4 linked regions of the Homo sapiens genome follow. The protein of the gene in region 1 interacts with the protein of each later gene in a biochemical or structural test. Each region holds a gene or a part of one and is shown on either strand. Other genes may lie near its edges.

What was found.
Region 2: the proteins of MPDZ (region 1) and TYRO3 interact in a test that uses a peptide from one of them, tested with the Homo sapiens proteins (one large-scale study listed by IntAct).
Region 3: the proteins of MPDZ (region 1) and SCN4A interact in a test that uses a peptide from one of them, tested with the Homo sapiens proteins (one large-scale study listed by IntAct).
Region 4: the proteins of MPDZ (region 1) and TMEM215 interact in a test that uses a peptide from one of them, tested with the Homo sapiens proteins (one large-scale study listed by IntAct).

Annotation. Positions count from the first base shown.
Region 1 is NC_000009.12:13,111,175-13,116,443, forward strand, and holds part of MPDZ (multiple PDZ domain protein), read right to left. Parts: intron 4,161-5,269; coding exon 4,074-4,160; intron 2,848-4,073; coding exon 2,757-2,847; intron 1,881-2,756; coding exon 1,837-1,880; intron 973-1,836; coding exon 850-972; intron 1-849. UniProt on the Homo sapiens protein: Member of the NMDAR signaling complex that may play a role in control of AMPAR potentiation and synaptic plasticity in excitatory synapses. Promotes clustering of HT2RC at the cell surface.
Region 2 is NC_000015.10:41,564,738-41,569,221, reverse strand, and holds part of TYRO3 (tyrosine-protein kinase receptor TYRO3 isoform 1 precursor), read right to left. Parts: intron 4,197-4,484; coding exon 4,081-4,196; intron 1,863-4,080; coding exon 1,685-1,862; intron 1,006-1,684; coding exon 860-1,005; intron 345-859; coding exon 200-344; intron 1-199. UniProt on the Homo sapiens protein: Receptor tyrosine kinase that transduces signals from the extracellular matrix into the cytoplasm by binding to several ligands including TULP1 or GAS6. Regulates many physiological processes including cell survival, migration and differentiation.
Region 3 is NC_000017.11:63,941,909-63,946,392, forward strand, and holds part of SCN4A (sodium channel protein type 4 subunit alpha), read right to left. Parts: intron 3,731-4,484; coding exon 3,452-3,730; intron 3,153-3,451; coding exon 3,099-3,152; intron 2,903-3,098; coding exon 2,765-2,902; intron 1,943-2,764; coding exon 1,838-1,942; intron 1,189-1,837; coding exon 918-1,188; intron 86-917; coding exon 1-85. UniProt on the Homo sapiens protein: Pore-forming subunit of Nav1.4, a voltage-gated sodium (Nav) channel that directly mediates the depolarizing phase of action potentials in excitable membranes.
Region 4 is NC_000009.12:32,781,390-32,786,349, reverse strand, and holds the start of TMEM215 (transmembrane protein 215), read right to left. Parts: upstream 2,811-4,960; 5' UTR 2,545-2,810; intron 2,225-2,544; 5' UTR 2,167-2,224; coding exon 1,459-2,166; 3' UTR 1-1,458.

The DNA of each region.
Region 1 (5,269 bases):
AGTCTGGTTGGAAGACAGCCATGCTTATTTGGCTGCTTTCACAGCGCAGAGTTGAGTAGTTGCAACAGAGACTCACAGGTCCCACAAAGCCTAAAATATTCAGTATCTGTCCTTCCAGAAGTTTACTGACCCTGTGCTATGTATACAATCAGGTTTTAAGTGTCAGCCATAAATTTGGATATCAAACGAGGCTGAACCATTCCCAGCCTAAAGACTATTTAAACTAAAATGTGGTTATGTTCTGAGACCTATTTGAGGTATGAAACCATAGAGATTTTGCTTTAGAGAGACTGAGTTGCGTTAATGGAATATTCATGTAATTTTTAGAGCTGGGCAGTTGGCATAAATTCCATTGCAATGCTCCACAATTTGGATAATCCCTCAGCTTTGAGGCAAGTTGCATATAGTTTTATAACATTGTAAGTCATATTTATATTAAACTTCTGCAAAATTATCAGTGAATGCAAATAAGTAATACTTTTCAATTTAACAGAGTTAAATCGGCGTTTAAACCAATCAAATATATAAGATAAAAATTTCACTTCATACTGGTGTTCTGAAAATACTTTCTGTTCTCTTTTAGCTTGTTCCACAGAATTTCAACATATAAAAATATGTATTAGGAAACAACTATAAATCTTCCTATTTAACTGCAAATCTGCATTTTCTCCTTTCTTTTAATATTCTTTATCTTTTATTCCAAGCAAGCCTTGCTGTGGTTGGATTAGATGATTTAAAAGTAAATATAGATATTTAAAACTGCCTTGCAACAGGTAGCCAGGTTCAAAGGTTTATAAAAACACTTCTGCACATTTTGCTAGGGCTTCTAGGGTTGATAGTACGACTCACTCTGAGTTTTTGGGTCTGTGCTGCAACTCCAGTTGGGTGCATCATTGCAATAAATATAGGCACATCACCAAGTGGGCTGCCTACTCCTCCAGCGATGCTGATTCCCAGTGAGTCAGTAGGGCCCTGCCATGGAACAGATATAAAATTTTGGTCAAAGTGATATTTTTCATTGACCTTTTGTTTATTCTTTGGCATGATATCTATAGTCAACTCTGATTTTCTAAGTGTGAGGGGGAAAATGAAGAAGTGCAAGAAAACTGCATTACTTTACTTGACACAGGTGCTTAGCGTGGCTTAGGAAAATAAGCATCTGTTCAGGAAGTAAAATAAATCAAGACATGCTAAATGAAAATCATGTTGTGGAACTGATGAAAAGCAGGTAAACTCATGAAGTGAAAAGACCACACTTTTGGAATCAGAGTCCTGTGTTCAAAGCCACGAAGTCATACTTGCAAATGCTGGAACTTGGAATAAGTCCACTCCACTCAATAAATCATTAGATCTTCATTTACAAAATGGAGACAACAGTGCCTCTCACAGAGGGCTGCAGTGAATATTAAATGACATGATGATGACATGAAGTGTCTATAAGAGTGCTCAGAACAATAGTAAAAGCTCAATAAATCACAGCTGCTTTTACTTTGTCTCTTGTGCATGGCTGTCAAGGGAATCTGTTTCAGAACTAATAAGTATCTGTTGAAGAGAAAGGTTTACTTATAAGAAGTGAGAGGCATGGTATTATTTTGTGTGGGGTCAATTTTATGCTATTTTCAGCAAAACAGAGCATGCAAACAACGATTTTTCAAATGAGGTGCTGTGATCAGGAAATTCATTAAGGACTACATTATGTTATTTCACATGTAATATGTAAGAATACATACTTTTTGAGATGAATACTTTAAAACCGTAAGAAAGTTAACAAGAAAACACATATGAAGATGTCTCTTAAAACGCCAGGGTTTATATTGTTTTCTCTCCCCAAGTTACCTTTTTCATTTCGACTGTTCTTAATCCCTGTATTTCAGATGCCACTGTAAAGGCAAAAAAGATAAAATAGGGTTATTTTATGTTCATTCACTTTTTATGTTCGTTAAAATATCTAAAGCTGGATGGGACTAAATGATAACCTAGGTTTCTTTTTTTAAGGGGGTGCTCAAAGCTGCTAGTACACATGATTAGATCTGTCTTACACAGAACTATTTATTTTTCCAGTTGGAAAAACGTGTATACCATCCCATTCTTCCTTCTCATTTTAAGTGTTGATTATATAACTATGTAATCCACTTTGAATGAGTCAAGGGCAGAATGTGTTTTGCATAGAAAGGCACATGTGCACGGCTGAGAGGAATAAAGTCATGGATGCATTAAAAAAATTCACAAATTTAAGTGCCTAAATTTCTAGAATATTAGTCATACTGCAAACAGAGATTGCCATATTGTTAGTTTCTTCAATTTGAACAACTCTCAACCAATGCACCAAGCCAAAAATCCCTCTGCAGCATGATTTCACGTAATTAAAACACAGGAGGATCACATTAATTTTCTCAAATTTTTGCAATCTTCATGGAAAAAGAAGGCTTCACTTAATGGCATCTTCTGATTTACTGGTGTTACATTAAACACAGAAAAGGAATAAAATCAAAAACACCAATCTGCTTAGTAAGAAAAAAAAATTACAGAATCCTGATTATAATGTTTAGTGTATCTTGTAGGGTAAACATCAAATGGGAAAAGCTGCCATAGGCAGAACTTCATGTTGTTCAGACTTTTTGCTAACACGTGTTTTTGTACCTATATTTGGATATGGGATGATTTGGGGGAAAAGAAAGCTCAGAGGTAAACAAGACAAAAAAATCAGTGTTGACAGCCAAATTCAAACCATGTTTAAAATACTGAACCAATCTTACATGCATTCTTCTTTGAGCTACTTTCCAGTGACTCAGATGTACTGGATCCAGAGAGTGGAAAAGTGAAAGATGACAGGCTGCCTTCACTCACCTACAAATATACAACAATTATTTCAGAAGGTTTTGCAAGTAACATACTCCCTAAATACCACTTATTTCAGAATTTAATCTAGAGACAGATACCTGTTAAGCAACAGTGGCATTTGATAATTTGATGAGCAATTTAAACACAGTTCCTACTGATTTTTTTTCTTTTAAACAGAGAATGTGTCTAGTGACATAAATAAATTGAAGCTAAAAGGGTAGATGAAATTGATTCCAATCTACCTAAAATTTTAGTGGATAGTCATAATCTCATTCAAACTAATCTTCTTTAAATTTAAACTGATGTTGTAGGAAGACTAGGACTTAAACAAAAACTGTAGAATTAGGGCCAGCTAATAGGAAACTCATGGTAGTAATTTAGAAAGTTAGTATGGGGTCTTTAAGGACAGACTGATGAAAATGGGTTTCCATCATCAGTAGACAACACTGAGGAGAAGGTCAAGAGGTCTTGTCAAGAGTCTTGAAATATTTAACATCATATTTTTATACATGGTGCTGAGTATCTATAGTTCACTTATATGGGACTTTTCAGTTGAATATTGATTGATGTTGCTATAAAATATTTTTAAAATATGTTATCTTGGGGCCAGGTACGGTGGCTCATGCCTGTAATCCCAACACTTTGGGAGGCTGAGGCGGGTGGATCACGAGGTCAGGCGTTTGAGACCAGCCTGGCTGACATGGCGAAACCCCATCTCTAATAAAAATACAAAAATTAGCCAGGCATGGTGGTGCACGCCTGTAGTCCCAGCTACTCGGGAAGTAGAGACAGAAGAATCTACTTCGCCCGGGAGGCGAAGGTTGCAGTGAGCTGAGATTGTGCCACTGCACTCCAGCCTGGGTGACAGAGCGAGACTCTGTCTCAAAATAAATAAATAAATAAATAAAATAAATAAAATAATAAAAAATTTGTTATCTTGGTAGGCTTTACAATTAGGTAGTTACCTTTTGAGATTATGGAAAATGAATCATGTCAAAAAAGAATGCTTGAAATCAATTTCCTTAGAATGACTTACAAACTACTCAACAGCCACACCTTGTTTACCTGGCTATTCTGATTCCTTGTTCTTCTCTGTCTCAAACTCTGCACCTCAGTCACTATCCCACGCTGCCAGGGGACCAGACCTTGTACACAGACCCACAGTCAGGGCCATCTATGTGTCCTCTTGGCATGCCGATTGCATCGCCCTGATGAACTCCACAGCTACCCACCTGGCTGCTTTGAGATGGCCTCCTCTCTGAATGGAATGGACCAGCTTTGATTCTTCCAACTTCCAAGGTTACTGTGCCTAGGGAACACTGGGGGTGGGCATGGGGGGTGTTTTATGGAAATGTTTAAATAAAATGCTATAATCATCTTTAGGAATACATTTTACTCTTCAAGACTTTTTTGAAAGGCATCTTCCTTTTGGAATTTCTATAAGCAAGGATACCTCCAATCCCTTGTGGAAAATGGCTTTTTATAAAACATTCAAACTAATAAAAATAATCAGCAGCAGCAACACCAAGTGTTTACCTTATCACCTCATGATTTCTATGGAGACTACTTGTACCAAAAAGAAATGGAGAATTGAGCAATTATCTCATGAAACACACTAATTTTGATAGGACAAACAAGCTGAATAACTGAGGGTTTAAAAAACAAAGCGACTGTAATCCCACCACTTTGGGAGGCCGAGGCGGGTGGATCACGAGGTCAGGAGATCAAGACCATCCTGGCTAACATGGTGAAACCCTGTCTCTACTAAAAATACAAAAAAATAGCTGGGCGTGGTGGCAGGCGCCTGTAGTCCCAGCTACTCAGGAGGCTGAGGCAGAAGAATGGCGTGAACCTGGGAGGCGGAGCTTGCAGTGAGCCAAGATCATGCCACTGCACTCCACCTGGGTGACAGAGCGAGACTTGAGACTCCACCTCAAAAAAAAAAAAAAAAAAAAAAAGCGAACACAATAAAACCACCACTACCACCACCTCAGCAACTTGTTTTGCCCTCAGTGGAAGAGGTACTTAGATAATTGGGTAAATTCTCTATCACTACACTGTGCCTGAATAGACTTATGATATAAAATTTAGATAAATACTGCTATCAACACAAAACATGAACTGAAGACAATCTTTCTTGCACCCCTTTACAAATAAACCATAGGCATGCAAGAAATGCCGCACAGTCTAATATGAAGTAGCACAAGAAGGTGTTTGAGATCCTGTTTTGGAGTCACTGGATTAAATCCAGACTATGTGATTTATTAGCTGTGTGACTGTAATGGATGTTTAACCTTAATAAATCTTTTACTCTGAATTTTAAAAATGTACATCATTATAGGTTGTTGAGATAAATAAACCATGAACAATGCTTATGACAGTGTCTAGAATGGAGTAAGATTAATATAAATATTGGGCACTGATATTA
Region 2 (4,484 bases), on another chromosome or scaffold:
CCTCCCAAAATGTTGGGATTACAGGCATGAGCCACCATGCCCAGCCAAGATAGTTTAAACAGCCCTGGCCTCAACTTCTTCACTCTGTCTGTGGGTCTACTAGGAGGGGAGATGCTACTAGGCTCCTCCCATCAGTCTAGGTTGCCCTTGAAAACCTTGATCCCCTGAGCCTCTGCCCCTCTCCACCTACAAGCCTCACCTGCACGGTCATGAGAAGAGACCACCAGTGGCTGACTCCAGGGTCCACAGCCAACTGCATTGGAGACGCACACACGTACGATCAGGTCCTTTTGGGGATCCCAGCCTGTCAAATTGGCCCTGGTCCCCTCCACTGTCAGCTCATCCTGCAGCCAGGAAAAGCCCCCACCCCATAGTGAGCCTGGGGAGAAGGCCTCCAGCTGGGGCCTGAGGACAGAAAAAGGTCCAGCTGGGAACATGGGAGTATAGGGGCACTGTGGGTTCAGGGGCTGCAGGAACACAACCTTCTGGGAGTAATCACATTCCTGTTCCCGGCTGCAGGGGCCTCTCCAGAACACAAACAAGGCTCAGTCCCGGAATGCACAGGTGGGGGATGGGAGCGAACTGAGCTGGGGACAAAGCCTTATCTGTGCCCTCCCCCAGCTCAAGCAGGAATGTGCTTCCTGCTTTATTTACAAAGTGCACACAGGATGCAACCCTAACAGGAGACATAATCCTTTGAGAAGTGGAGCTTGCAGAGGAGGGTGAGGAGGAAAGGATTCCCTGGGGCTGCGGGAGACCCAGGCCCACCAAAGACAATCATTTTGAAATTCTTAAAGGCCTTAGAACCCTGAAGGCTTATACTCCAGGAGAGTGGAGAGAGGGGAGGGTTCTGTCTTACCTGGGTTCCATTGTCTTGAACCCAGGACAGTTTGTAGGGTCCCAGGGGGCCTTCCAAAGGGGCCTCGGGGATCACTTCTTCCCACTCCAAGATGAGGCCTGAATCTGTGCGGATGGCATGGAGGTTTTGGGGAGCGCTGGCTGGGGCTGCAGCCAAAGAGAGAAGATTGCTAAGACCCCTGCCCTTCCCACCATCATAATTCCATGCAGACCTTTGGAATCAACTCCCAAGAACTAAACAGCTCTGAGAGGCACAAACTGGGGAAGGGTTCACCTCCCAGCTCTGACTGCTCTCACCCACTGTGCTGGGGGAGGGGTAAGCAATGGGCAGGACAGGCAGCACCCCAGCTCGGCAGTGTTGCTCTTCATCACCATGGTTACTGCCTTTCTGCCTCACCCCTTACCACTCCCCTCTCACAGCTATGCCAGCCTCTTTGCAATTGCCAAGCAAGTTCCTGTCATAGGGTCTTTGCACTTGCTGTGCCTTCTTCCGGCAGTGATTTTCCCCCAGATATTTACATGGCTTCTTCTTTATCGTTCAGATCCCAGATCCTTCAGATCTTTATCCTTCAGACCTTTTTAGGGGGGGTTTCCTTAACCACCTGGGGACACTCTTTATCAACCACATTATCTGATCTTTTCCAGTTTGCTTATCTGTTCCACCTACAAGAACTACTTACAAGGTGGTATGTAGTTATATGCAGTAAATGTTTGCCGAATGATGCCTGAACCTCCATCTCTACCAGCACCATTCAGAACTCCAGCCAACACGGCCCCCTTCCCGGCTCCAGCCCTGCCCACCCGCTCTGCTCTATGCATCCCTTACCTAGACCCTTGGTCTGAAAGGGCACCCAGTCAGCATAGGGAGAGGGCCCCAAGGCATTGGCACAGCGCACCCTGAGGCTGTAGTTGGTGGCAGGCACCAGGTCCCGGAGCAGGCAGGTAAAGGGGGGCACAGGGACCACAACAGCCAGGACTTCCCAGCCTCCTGGGGCCTGTGTCACCTACAGAAAAGCAGAAAACTAATGATGTAGGGGAGAGCCTGTGAGAGATGGAAGATGGGATGGGTATAGTTATGGGTGCTTGAATGAATGCTTCCTCTATCAGCAAACACTTGCAACCCACGCCCTCCCATCTGCCCCCACCCCAATAATACACAGGGTTCCACATCTTCATACCTTTGCAAATGCTGTTCCTTTCACTTGGAATGACCTGCTCTTCCTAGCAAAGGCCTACTCATCCTTTAAGACTCAGTGCAAATATCACTTTCTTGGTGAAAGCCTTTCTCAACCACTCCAGAAAACTCTTGTCCTTTTGTACTTGGTACGAAACTCTTAGGGTATACTTACCACTTACTGTGCCTGTTTACATGCCACTCCAAAGTTCTAGAGCTTCTGAAGCTCAGAGAAAACTGGGAGCCTAGGGCACTATGAACCAGCCCTTCATCTTACATTTTGGGGGCCCAGGGCAAGAGTACAAAGAGATCCACGTACTATATGTCTAAATATTTAAACATTATAAATCAGCTAACAAACTATTAAATAGTTTCTCTCTTAATATTTTGACCAATAAACCTTCAAAACAACCTGGGAGATCAGGTTTGCATTTGTAACTCTCCAAATCCCTGGAGTCCCGAGTCAGAATGAGGAGGCACTGGAAGAGCTGGCCTGAAGCCAAGGTCTGCACCATGAGGGGCCTCATGTGCACAGGCGTGGACAATGCTGACTGCATATCCAAGCTCCATTCCCATCCCCCTCACGAATGGCTGCCCCTTGGGCTTAGAGGTGGTCATATCACACTGCGGTCCATCCTTGGGAAGATGGAACAGGGAAAAGGCCCACACAGACCCCAGAAGCAGACTCAGAACCATTAGGGCAAGAGATCCTGAATAGCTATAGTATAGTGTGGCAGTGAGGGGGTCCTTGCCATCTGGATGGGCATATCCTCTTGGCCCTGTAGGCTCTTTGCCCCGGGGAAAGGGGTGTGGCCAAAGGAGGGCCAGAGTAGGATCCTCTTTTTTTTTTTTTTTTTTTTTTTTTTTTTAATAGAGACAGGATCTTGCCCTGTCACTCACTCAGGCTGGAGTGCAGTGGCATGATCTCGGCTCACCGCAGGCTTGACTTCTCAGGCTCAAGTCATCCTCCCACTCTAGCCTCCTGAATAGTTAGAAGTACAGGCGCATGCCACTGTGCCTGGATAATTTTTGTATTTTTTGTAGAGAAAGGGTTTTGCCATGTTGCCCAGGCTGGTCTTGAACCCCCAGGCTCAAGCAATCCTCCCGTCTCCACCTCCCAAAGTGCTGGGATTACAGGCATAAGCCACTGTGCCCAACCTCAGTAGGGTTCTCTAAATGGTGGAGCCCAGAGCAGGGGCCCCTCCTGCCCAGGGGAACTGCCCAGAACAGTTTTGAAAGGTACTCATTAAATGGCCTTTGAGTAAACGGATGAAAATGAGCAAGCCTGCATTGCCTCTTGTTTTTAGTATCACCTTACACAGTTTTTCCACTCTCCAAGGCTTAGGGCCCCTTCTGGTCATCTTGTTCTCTTTGGCTTGAGTGGGGGTTGGGGGGTAAGGTGGAGCATGATAGGGTGAGTATCAGCAAAGGTTTGAGCTTTCACCTAAGTAAGAAAAACTCGTCTGGGTGTGCTGGTTCATGCCTGTAATACCAGCACTTTGGGAGGCTGAGGCAGGTAGATCACTTGAAGTCAGGAGTTTGAGATCAGGCTGGCTAATATGGTGAACTACTAGTCTCTACTAAAAATACAAAAAAAAAAAAAAAAAGTTAGCTGGGCGTGGTGGTGCATGACTGTAATCCTAATCCTAGCTGCTGGGGAGGCTGAGGCAGGAGAATCACTTGAACCCAGGAGGTGGAGGTTGCAGTGAGCCGAGATGGCACCACTGCACTCCAGCCTGGCCAACAGTGAGACCCTGTCTCAAAAAAAAAAAGAAAGAAAGAAAAACCTTCCAGGTACCCCAAATCTGTTCTAGTGATCTGCTTTCCAACCTTATGAATGCATGAGTTTGAGCCAATCTGCAAAGTCACTTAGTTGCCAGAGCACCCCATGATAAGAGACAGTGGCCTGTGTTCTTCCTGCTAAGGAGCAGAGCCTGAAAAGAGCTGCAGACCAAGCCCCCAGGAGCTGGCTAGTGAGTGTGATATCCCTGTCAACAAAGTGCTGGCCATGCAGCCAGAACGAGCATGGCCCGGCCCGGAGAGCCTACCTGAACTGTACAGGACTGTAGCAGAGCTCGGCCATCAGCACCTGGCATCCAGGCCACACTAGCGTTGCTGCTGGAAAGCTTTGTCACGGTGATGTTGAAGGGGGCTGCAGGCAGTGCTGTGGACGGGGACTCAGAATCAGTGCCCAGTAGGGATATGAGCAGAGGCAGCAGGAGGCATGGGAGTCAAGCCTTGAGTCTCTCTGAGGGTCCAGGGCATCCCCAACCTAAAGACGGCTACTCAGCACTCCCAGGATCACAGTAGTACACAAATAAGCAACCAGTAGGGCACAGCTGCTCACACCTGGGAGAGTGCCTGGGCTGTGGAGAGAGGTTGCCTCTCCCTGCCACGAAGGCCCTGTGTAACTGAGGAATAAGATGAGAGGGTATGTGGGGGCAGCACCTCA
Region 3 (4,484 bases), on another chromosome or scaffold:
ACACGCCCAATCCGCGCCAGGCGGATCACACGGAACAGCGTGGGTGACACGAAGTACTTCTGGATCAGGTCAGAGAGGGCAAGGCCTGCGGGGAGAAGCTAGTGAGGACGCTGCCACTGGGGAGGGGGGCCGGCACAGGGTGTGGGGAGCATGCGGGGCTCAGGGGGCCCGGCCTGGTGTGCTCTGCTCAAGTCTCAGAGCACAGCCCAGATGACTGACAGGTGAGGCTGGGCTCTCCCACGGGTCTTGGGGCCAGGGGCTGCAGCTTTGTCTTGATGGAACTGGAGGTGGGATACCCTGAAGTGGGGGAGTGTAAGGCCCATTCCCAAGGCTGTTTGCAAATGCCACTGGTGTGTGTGTGTGTGTGTGTGTGTGTGTGTGTGTGTGAAAGAGACAGAGAGAGAGAGACAGAGAGAGAGGGAGACAGAACAGCTGCGTGACTCTGGGTCTCCACTTCACTTGTTTGTGCCTCAATTTCCTTACCTGTAAAATGGGAACAACAGTTCCTGATCATGACATTGTTATGAACAACAGGTGAGATAACACCTGTCAAGCGCACAGCACAGTTGATAATAAATGGCAGCTACTTTCTATCATAAGCACACGCATGACTGTGCACTTCTCAGTGCACACAGACATGGAACCATCTTTTACACTTTTCGCTCAGTATGTGGGCACCTGAGTGCACGTCTTCTGGTCAGTTGTGTGTCCTGAGGTGCATCCATGTGTGCGCGGGTGACGATCTGCCTGTGTGCACACCATGTGCCTTTGTGCATTGAGAGTGAATGGCAGGCACGCACAGGCATGTGTCTGGGTGAGCGTGTGAGGGTGCAGGGGCAGGTGTGTCCGTGTGAGGATGGGTCTTCCCGAGTGCCTCAGCTCAGTGCTGCCCTGCCGGTCCAGCCCGCCCCGCTCACCCACAATGGACAGGATGACGACCACGAAGTCAAAGATGTTCCAGCCAACGGTGAAGTAGTACTGGCGCAGGGCGAGCATCTTGAGCACGCACTCCCCTGTGAAGATGATGATGAAGATCATGTTGATGTTGTACAGGATGTCCACCTTGAGCTGGCTCTGGTTGTCTGTCTCCACCATCATGGTGACCATGTTGAGGCAGATGAGGATCATGATGGTGATGTCGAAGGCCTGCTTCGTCACGAGGTCATACACCATGCCCTGGATCTTGTTCTGCAGCATGGGTGGGAGTGGATGTGGAGGAGTTGGGGTGGCCAGGCCCAGACAGGACATGGACAGGCAGGAGGCACAGGATGGCACCACAGCATGACAGAGATGACAGAGATGACAGAGAGAGAGAGAGAGAGAGAGAGAAAGGAGGTGTTGGGGGTTGTGGTGGAGTCAGCCAGGGGAGGAGGGGTGACCCATCAGATCATGACAGGTCTGGGACCAGGTCATTTTATGGGGTTCATGGTCCTCCCTTCAAGATCCCCCAGATGCTCCTCCCCTTTCTTCCAAAGTCATTGCTCCTGGGTAGGGTGTCTGGACATCCTCCTCCTTCCACTTGTGGGAGCCCTTGCCCCAGGGGCCACTGGGGTCCCAGGTGGGAGGTAGGTGGGCACTGAGGAGCTTCGTGGGACCAAGTGAGGGTAAAGCACTCACTAGAGTTTCATGGACAGCCTCTGTGCATATGGTGTCTCTGTGGCACTACAAAGAGGCGTCCCTCCCTGCAGGTAGACCAAGTCCCCTGCCCCTGGGGTGGGCCTAACCTCACCCAGGGACACAGCCTGGTGGGTGGAAGGCAGGAAACCTTTTACCCCCATCAGTCCCCTAGGCAGGAGCCTGGCAGCACACACAGGACAGGGGGCCCAGAGGTCTGTACCTGGGGCCGGGGAATTGGCTTCTGAGGCTTCTTGGAGCCAAGCTTCTTCATGGCGTTATAGTATTTCTTCTGTTCCTCCGTCATAAAGATGTCTTTCCCCCCTAAGTATAGTGGGATAGGGCTTGTCAGGTTGAGGTGCAGTTCCCCTTCCTGCCTCCAGGACCACCCCCACCTCAGTGGGGCACCTCACCTTTAAGGCAGCCCCCGCCCCTGTTGATCAGCCTGGAGGAAGCGGGAGGGTCAGAGATGGAGGGACAAGGGGAGAATGCGGGACCGAGGAGAAGGGAGGGAAGGGGAGTGGGGATCAATGCTGTCTTGCAGCCTGTTTCTGGCTACTTTTCATCAACATCTCGCTGAGCCCTAGAGTAACCCACAAGGCAGGTTGTAGCAGCCTCGTCTTTTTTTTTGTTGTTGAGATGGAGTCTCGCTCTGTCACCAGGCTGGAGTGCAGTGGCGCGATCTTGGCCCACTGCAACCTCCATCTCCTGGGTTTAAGCGATTCTCCTGCCTCAGCCTCCTGAGTAGCTGGGATTACAGATGCCTGCCACCACGCCTGGCTAATTTCTTTTTTTAATTTTTTTTGTATTTTTAGTATAGACAGGGTTTTACCACGTTAGCCAGGGTGGTCTCGAACTCCTGACCTTGTGATCCGCCCGCCTCGGCCTCCCAAAGTGCTGGGATTACAAGCATGAGCCACCGTGCCTGGCCCAGCAGTCTCATTTTACAGATAAGGACACCGAGGTTCATGGAGGCCAAGCCACTTGTTCAAGGTGGCCTGGTGGGACTGGGACCCAAGCTAGCTGCCTGAACCAACAACCTGGTAGGTGCTCAGGCAGCGTTTGTGGGTTTGTGCAATGGAGAGTGGACAAAGGAGGCAGGAGGGAGGCCCAGCACCGGGAGGGCCCGAGGGGCTGGGCTGATACTCATCTTCTTCTTCTGCTGGTTGAAGTTGTCAATGATGACGCCAATGAAGAGGTTGAGGGTGAAGAAGGAGCCAAAGATGATGAAGATGACAAAGTAGAGGTACATGTAGAGGTTCACCTCGTACTGCGGCTGCTCCTCCTTCTGTGGGAGCCACAGGGTGGGACGGCGTGGGTTTGCACGCTGGCTTCTCCCTGCCCCCCACAGCCCTGAGGGCAGGACCCATCCACCCCCAGGGCTGCCAAGTCTCGGGGACAGAACGTGCTGCCAAGTCTCCCTCCTGTCTTGAGTCCTCTTCCCTGGCTCGCTCACCAGCCACATCTCAGCGACCCCGACTCACCTCCCGGGAGTCCACGGCTGCATACATGATGTCCATCCAACCCTTGAAGGTGGCCTGAGAGAGTGTGGTTGGGGAGTGAGCCGGGGGGCTGCTCCCTGCTTTCATCATCCATGAGTTTCCCTCCCCCACCCAACCTGGTCCTCCCCTGCCAGAGGCCGCCTGCCAGAGCCCCACTGGGCTAGCATCAAATAAAGACCAGAGAGGTCTAGACACTGCCTGGGGATCCCACAGCATTGGAAGCAGGGTGGGCGGTCCCCTAACCAGGAGTGACACTGGGGTTGGGTACAACGAGAGGACCGGGGTGGGGGGCACCTCCATCCAGGTTCCCGGCAGGGGTGGTGGGTCACACTCACCACCTGCAGGAGGGAGAGGTAGCCCAGACCCACGTTGTCGTAGTTGACCTTGACATTGAGCCAGCGGACCTGGCCTGTGTGCATGAGGCTCTCGCACTCAGACTTGTTGTTGACCTCGGAGATGTCGAACCTCTCAGAGGTGGTGGTGTTGATGCAGTAGTAGAACTTGCCGGCAAACAGGTTGACACCCATGATGCTGAAGATCAGCCAGAAGATGAGGCAGACAAGCAGCACATTCATGATGGAGGGGATGGCGCCTAGGAGGGCGTTCACCACCACCTGGGGGCCAGGGGGTCCATTGCCAGTGCCTCTCCCAGCCTCTGAGAGAGGGCTCCACATCTCTACGCCACCCAGGGGACCAGGCAGAGCTGGGCATTGTCAATTAGGGAGGGCTTCCTAGAGGAGGGCCGACCTGCTGGGCTGTGTGTGTGCAGGTTGGGGGTGGTAAGGGGGAGGGGGAGGGAGCTGCAGGCCTGGTGGTCAAGAGGGCTCTCTGCTTGACTGGAGCCATCAGCCCAGAGTAGGGGTGCTGGGTTTCTCTGGAAGCAGCCTGGTCACAGGTCACCAGGCAGGAGACAAACACTCTTTGCTCAGCCCCCATAGGAAACTCAGCTCACGTGACCCAGCCCCTGCTCATGGGTTTTCAGCCCCAGAGCCCCAGACACAGGCACAGAAAAGAGGGCACCAGGGTCTTTGAAGCAGCAGGAGCTCTGGGACAGAAGCCCCATCCCCACCAGCCCTAGTCACACAGCCCACCTGACCACTGCAGACTGGGCTGGATCTGACACCCCTCTCTTTTTAAGGAGGAGCCATTTCATGACCTCTAGAGTGGGTGGCACAAGCCTGGTGTGCCCAGGGGAGCTCTGTTCCTGGTTGGGGCACTGACCAGCTGCATGGCCACAGGCAGCTTGTTTCCCCTCAACGGGAGGGCTCCCTGGCTCTGGGGGGTCAGAGGGCCCAGCATTCGGCTGGCCTCTTGCAGGGACAGGAAGGGGCCGCTTGGGGGGGCTCGCCATGGCCTCTAGATTTGCAG
Region 4 (4,960 bases), about 20 Mb from region 1:
CAGAGTTGGAATTGAAATACACAAAACATATATGCCCAAATTTTTGTCCTCAATTCCCCTTTTGGGAGAAAGTGACTAAGACTATATGATCACTTAAAATGATCATTCTTTGAAGGATACAAAATACTTCTGATCTTCAAGATGAACTCTATCACCATTCCTATATATAATTCATATTTTTCTTCACCGGGGATCAAATGGCATTCTGCTTGATAGCCTTCTTATCTATTGCAGTTGAGCAAGTGAAATAGAAAGCACATTTTAGGATATCATTGTGATTTGTTGTTTTCCTCAGCAGCAAAAATGTATGAAATAAAGAGACTTTTATCATGTAATGTTCACTGATCAGGTGAGCTTAATAAAATCTAGGCTTCAGTTAAATTTAGTAGATGAGTTCTTGTTTCACTGGCATTTACAGTCTGTGAGAGGAGTTGAACAAATGTACAAATAATGACACTTCCAAAGGTTTAACCATTGCATTTCATACAAATTATGTGCAATGTTCAAGGCTAATGTGTAGACTTTATAGTTTTCAGATTTTAAAAGGTATGTAGGAATGGTAATTATCAGTACATGTCTGCCAATGTTAAAGACTTGGATATATATGTAAAATTCATTTTGTCTTGATGAAAACAAATTCCAATCTATGAAAGTATCATTTCAAATAATGTTGCACCTGGTAAGGAAATAATACATGAATGATAGTAAATGTTTAGAAAAAACCCATTTCAGATAAAGATGCAATAAATGGATTTAAACGAAGAGTTTAAGAAGTAACATAGCCATCTAAAAATGTTAACTTTTCACATAGCTGCTCACACTTATTTTACTTTATTAGAGACCATGATCTTGTCAGACAATAATGCCACAAGACTCAGTTACATAATCCAACTCTCTTTAACTACCCTTTTCCCAAAAACCATCCCATCTAAGGAGGGTTTAACTCTTGTATCTTGATTTTTTTTTCTTTCAGCAAATACCAAGTGTGATAAGCTTTTAACCAGGCAAAAATTACTTTATATAACGGATCATTAATTTTATTTTCAACTTATTCAAACATAAAGCAGCTCAGTTTCCCTGTGGTCAGCTCATGCATCATTTGATGCCTCACATCTGCAGCCCACTCTAGATTTATCTTGCTCTCAGCTGGTTCTGGATAGCACTTTTTGGGTTATTTTACAAAACATTTAACATTGTGTAAATTGTTAAGAAGCAACTGGAGTAGCTTCCTTTCCTACCCACTGCCTCTTCCAGTGTCCTTAACCCTCATCGCCCTTCCCTAAAATGTGTCCCCAACATGCCTATTTACATGACTCTCGGGTACCAGAGGTTATCACACCCATCACATACCAGGTCAATTTCTAACAGTGTGAAGGCTCTCCAAGCAGAGCAATTTGCTTCCACGGGGAGCTGGGCTTAGTCATATTCTATCAATCCAGCCACCTTTGTAGGCAGAGATTAGACGATGGTCTCGTGGTCCCACCTGCCTTGTATCTGATTGATATAACAACAGTATCTGTCATACGGGCTGTTCTGCTTGTAGGAGCAAACGATGATACTGTCCTGGGGCACAAAGAAGATGCTATCCTCAGGCTCAGGGCACTCAGATCTGTCCCTTGCTGAGCACTTGACGTCCAAGGCACTGTAGGTGAGGGAACTGCCCGAGGGGCAGTAGCCGTCCAGGTATCTGGACGTCTCCTCCTGATGCCCATTCTGGACGAGGCTCTGGCATTCTCCTTCCTCCGTGGGTGTGGGGCTGTTGATGGAGCTGGCCACGGACACCTCACCCTGGCTTTGTGGGGGAGGCTTCCCCCTGAGGCCCGCCTTCTTAGCCAGCTCATCTGAGCTCCCCTTGCCGGATTCTAGGTCTGAAGGGGTCCTCAGCAGCTCTACCACCTCCTTGTCTTTGGGTTTCCGGAAGCAGGGCAATTTGCGGACCCACAGCAGCTCGTTCTCTGGCCACTTGGTGCATCCCTCGGTTTTCCTGGCCAGGGCAATGGCTGCGATGCCTGGTAGGCAGATGGCTGGCCCGATGGCCAGGAGGGGGATGTTTCCCAAAGTCTCCCCTTTCATCCCAGAGACGGTGAACATGAAACCAAAGACGAGGAAGACACTGACCAGGGCCACCACCAGCCCAGTCCTCGGGTTAATGTCATCAGGCCGCATGTTTCACTCCATCCAGGTTGGGGGCTGCTTGCTGACCAGGGAGCAGCGTTCCTCTATTCTGTCAGAGATGAAACCACAGTGCGTTAAAAAAAAATCCAAGTCAAGCTCCCACCCATCAACTCTTGTCTTTCTCTTGCCCTTTGTCTCCGACTTGCTTCTTGACTTTCAGTCTTGATCTCTGTCTCTGTATCTCTCTTGCAATCTCTCTATCTCTCTCTCTGCGTTTCTCTTGCAATCTCTCCCTGTTTCTATTTCTACTCTTTCTCTCCGTCCCCTCTCCCTCCCTCCCTTTCTTGTGCCCTCCCTCTCTTCCTCTCACTATTGCAACCTCCGTCTCTCTCTCATATCAACACGCTCCGGCTGGGGTCAACGAGGTACCTGAGGTTTCCTGCCCTCTCCAGGAAGTAGGGAAAGAAGCCAGGCTGTCTCCTCAGAAGCCCCCACAGCAGCTGCCCCCTCGGCTCGCTCCCTTGGTTCTGGGAGGAAAGCCTGGTTTCCCCCACGGACTCTGCATCGGGGAGGTGGAACCTGGGAGAGCGGCTCTCCCAGCAGTGCCCGTCGGTCCCGGTGCTGTGCAAGCGGAGCCCGGCGCCAGCTCAGCGCGCAGAGCGCGGGGCGCGGGAGGAGGAGGGAGCACTGAGTCTGGGAAAGAGGGGACGCGGCGCGAGCCTGGCCTTGTTACATCACTGTCAGAGCAGGCTCAGAAACGCAGACAGACGCGCGGGGGCGCGAGGGGGTCAGCCCCAGAGGGAGGCCACCCGGCGGCAGGCGCTGCCCGGGGTCTCGTCGGGGCTGCTGGGAGCGGCCGGGGTTTGTGCCGCCGCCGTTCCGGAGGCTGAGCAGGGCGACCTGACCCGCTTCCGTGCCCGGGAAGGGTCTGGGGCGCGAGGCTGCCAGTGGCCGGAGTCGGAAACCAGGGTCGGTTTGCCCACGGGGCAGCCGTTGCAATATCCGAGCTCGGGCTCCCAGTCCGGGATCCGAGGAGTTAGGTGCCAGCTGGAGATGTCCCTCCGGGACCCGCACCCTTCTCCAGTTACAAATCCGGGTGACTGACGGCAGGCCCAGGGGCTCCCCGACCGCCCTTCTCTCAACCCCTCGACTCGGGGCGCGGGGGGGTGTGTGTCCCTCGGGGAGCCGGTGCCCGAGGACTGCTTTGGTCCCGGCTCTGGGCGGTGGCGGCGCGCGAAAGCGCTCTTGCAGCGGAGCGACTGCGCCGCGGGAGCGCACAGAACCAGCGCCCAGGCGGAGTGGGTTAGTGGTGAGGGGTGGGTGCCAGGCTAGTCCGGGCCTTGGGGGAGTCCCCGGAGTCCCCGTGGCTTTCCAGCTCCAGGCTCGGGAGAGGGTGACCTTGGAGCCGGGATTTCACTTCTACAGCGCTGTGGTGCCGGGGGGACAGGGAGAAGGGCTCCCTGGCCCCCAGTTCACGAGGAGAAGGGGCCTTGACCGGTCAGGACCACCACCCTACGACGCCGCTCAGCTCTGGGCGATTCTCTCCTCCCTTGCTGAAGCAGGCATTGAGAGCCTGCGTTCCTCCCGCTCTGGTAGGCAGGGGCAGATGGATTCCTCTGGCCCCGGGGGGCAAGACTGGCTTTGGCTGTGATTCTTCAACAGGGCTGCCCATTTAGGATAGAGGAGGGCGGTGGAGAACAGGTTGATGAGCGGTACATGCTTTCATGTCAAGACACTGATTTACTGGAAAGAATTTTCACATCCAGGCCTTCCCCAGTTAAACTAGCTGTATATTCCTGGGCAAGTGACTTAACCTCTCTGAGAATCAGTCGTCCTATCTGTAAAATGAGATTAATACCAAATATATGAGGAAACATTGTGAGGATTAAATAAACGTAAAGTTCCTAGCACAATGCTTGGTACATAGTCTGTGTACAAAAATTACACACACATGCACACACGTACACATGTATATGTATATATATTTGTCATCATAATTAGTGTCTTCATCATGTATGACAGGAGCCAAACAAATCATAAAGGCTGTGAGACTAAGGACTTTTTATCCACTAGGCAATGAAGAACGCTTGATGTATTTTAAGCAAAGATCAATACAAAAACATTCCAGTTTGACTGAAAGGGGCGGCAGGTGAGAGCATAGGTTGGAGCTGGTAAGTCTGGAAGCCGGGAGTCTTGTTCAGTAAGCTGAGAAGTTCAGTAAGCCGGGCAAGACATGATGTGGCCTTAACAATGTCGGGCTGGTAGAGGAGTTGGAAGGAAGCAGATCTGAGGGTATTTAAGGGTTGAGTGAAGTGTCTTGGAGCACAGTGAAGTGAGATGAAGGGAGGAGCCAAGGTCAACTCCCAACTTTCTCACTTTCAAAGGGGTGGATCAGGAAGCAGATCCTTCTCATTTTCCTCTCCATCATCTATTTTGTATCTTTTGTACTCATGACCATTAGACAGCTGCTGCACCTTTAGGCATAGAATCATTTAGGAGGGAAGAAAGGAGAAAATGCAAAGGGTAAAAGTGAGGTGCCAGTTCTTTGGCCACTTGTATGAGGACAATAATAATTTTCCTGGCAGCCCCCCCAAGTAGATAGGCATCTGCCTGTAATTGACCAGAGATGGATGAGCTTTGGGATACAAAGGTACCTGGGAAATTGTTGTTTATTTATTTACCAGATCCACTGATGGTCTGAAAAAAGGGTTTTGTTTAAAAGGAGCAGCATACTGCTCCTTTTAAATACTGGGGAAGCAGCTCGCTACGTGTGTTACAATTATTGAAAAGTTTTCCCTTCTTAAAACCGTTTCTTTTACTGACACCATTCTATCCTAGTTTTCTT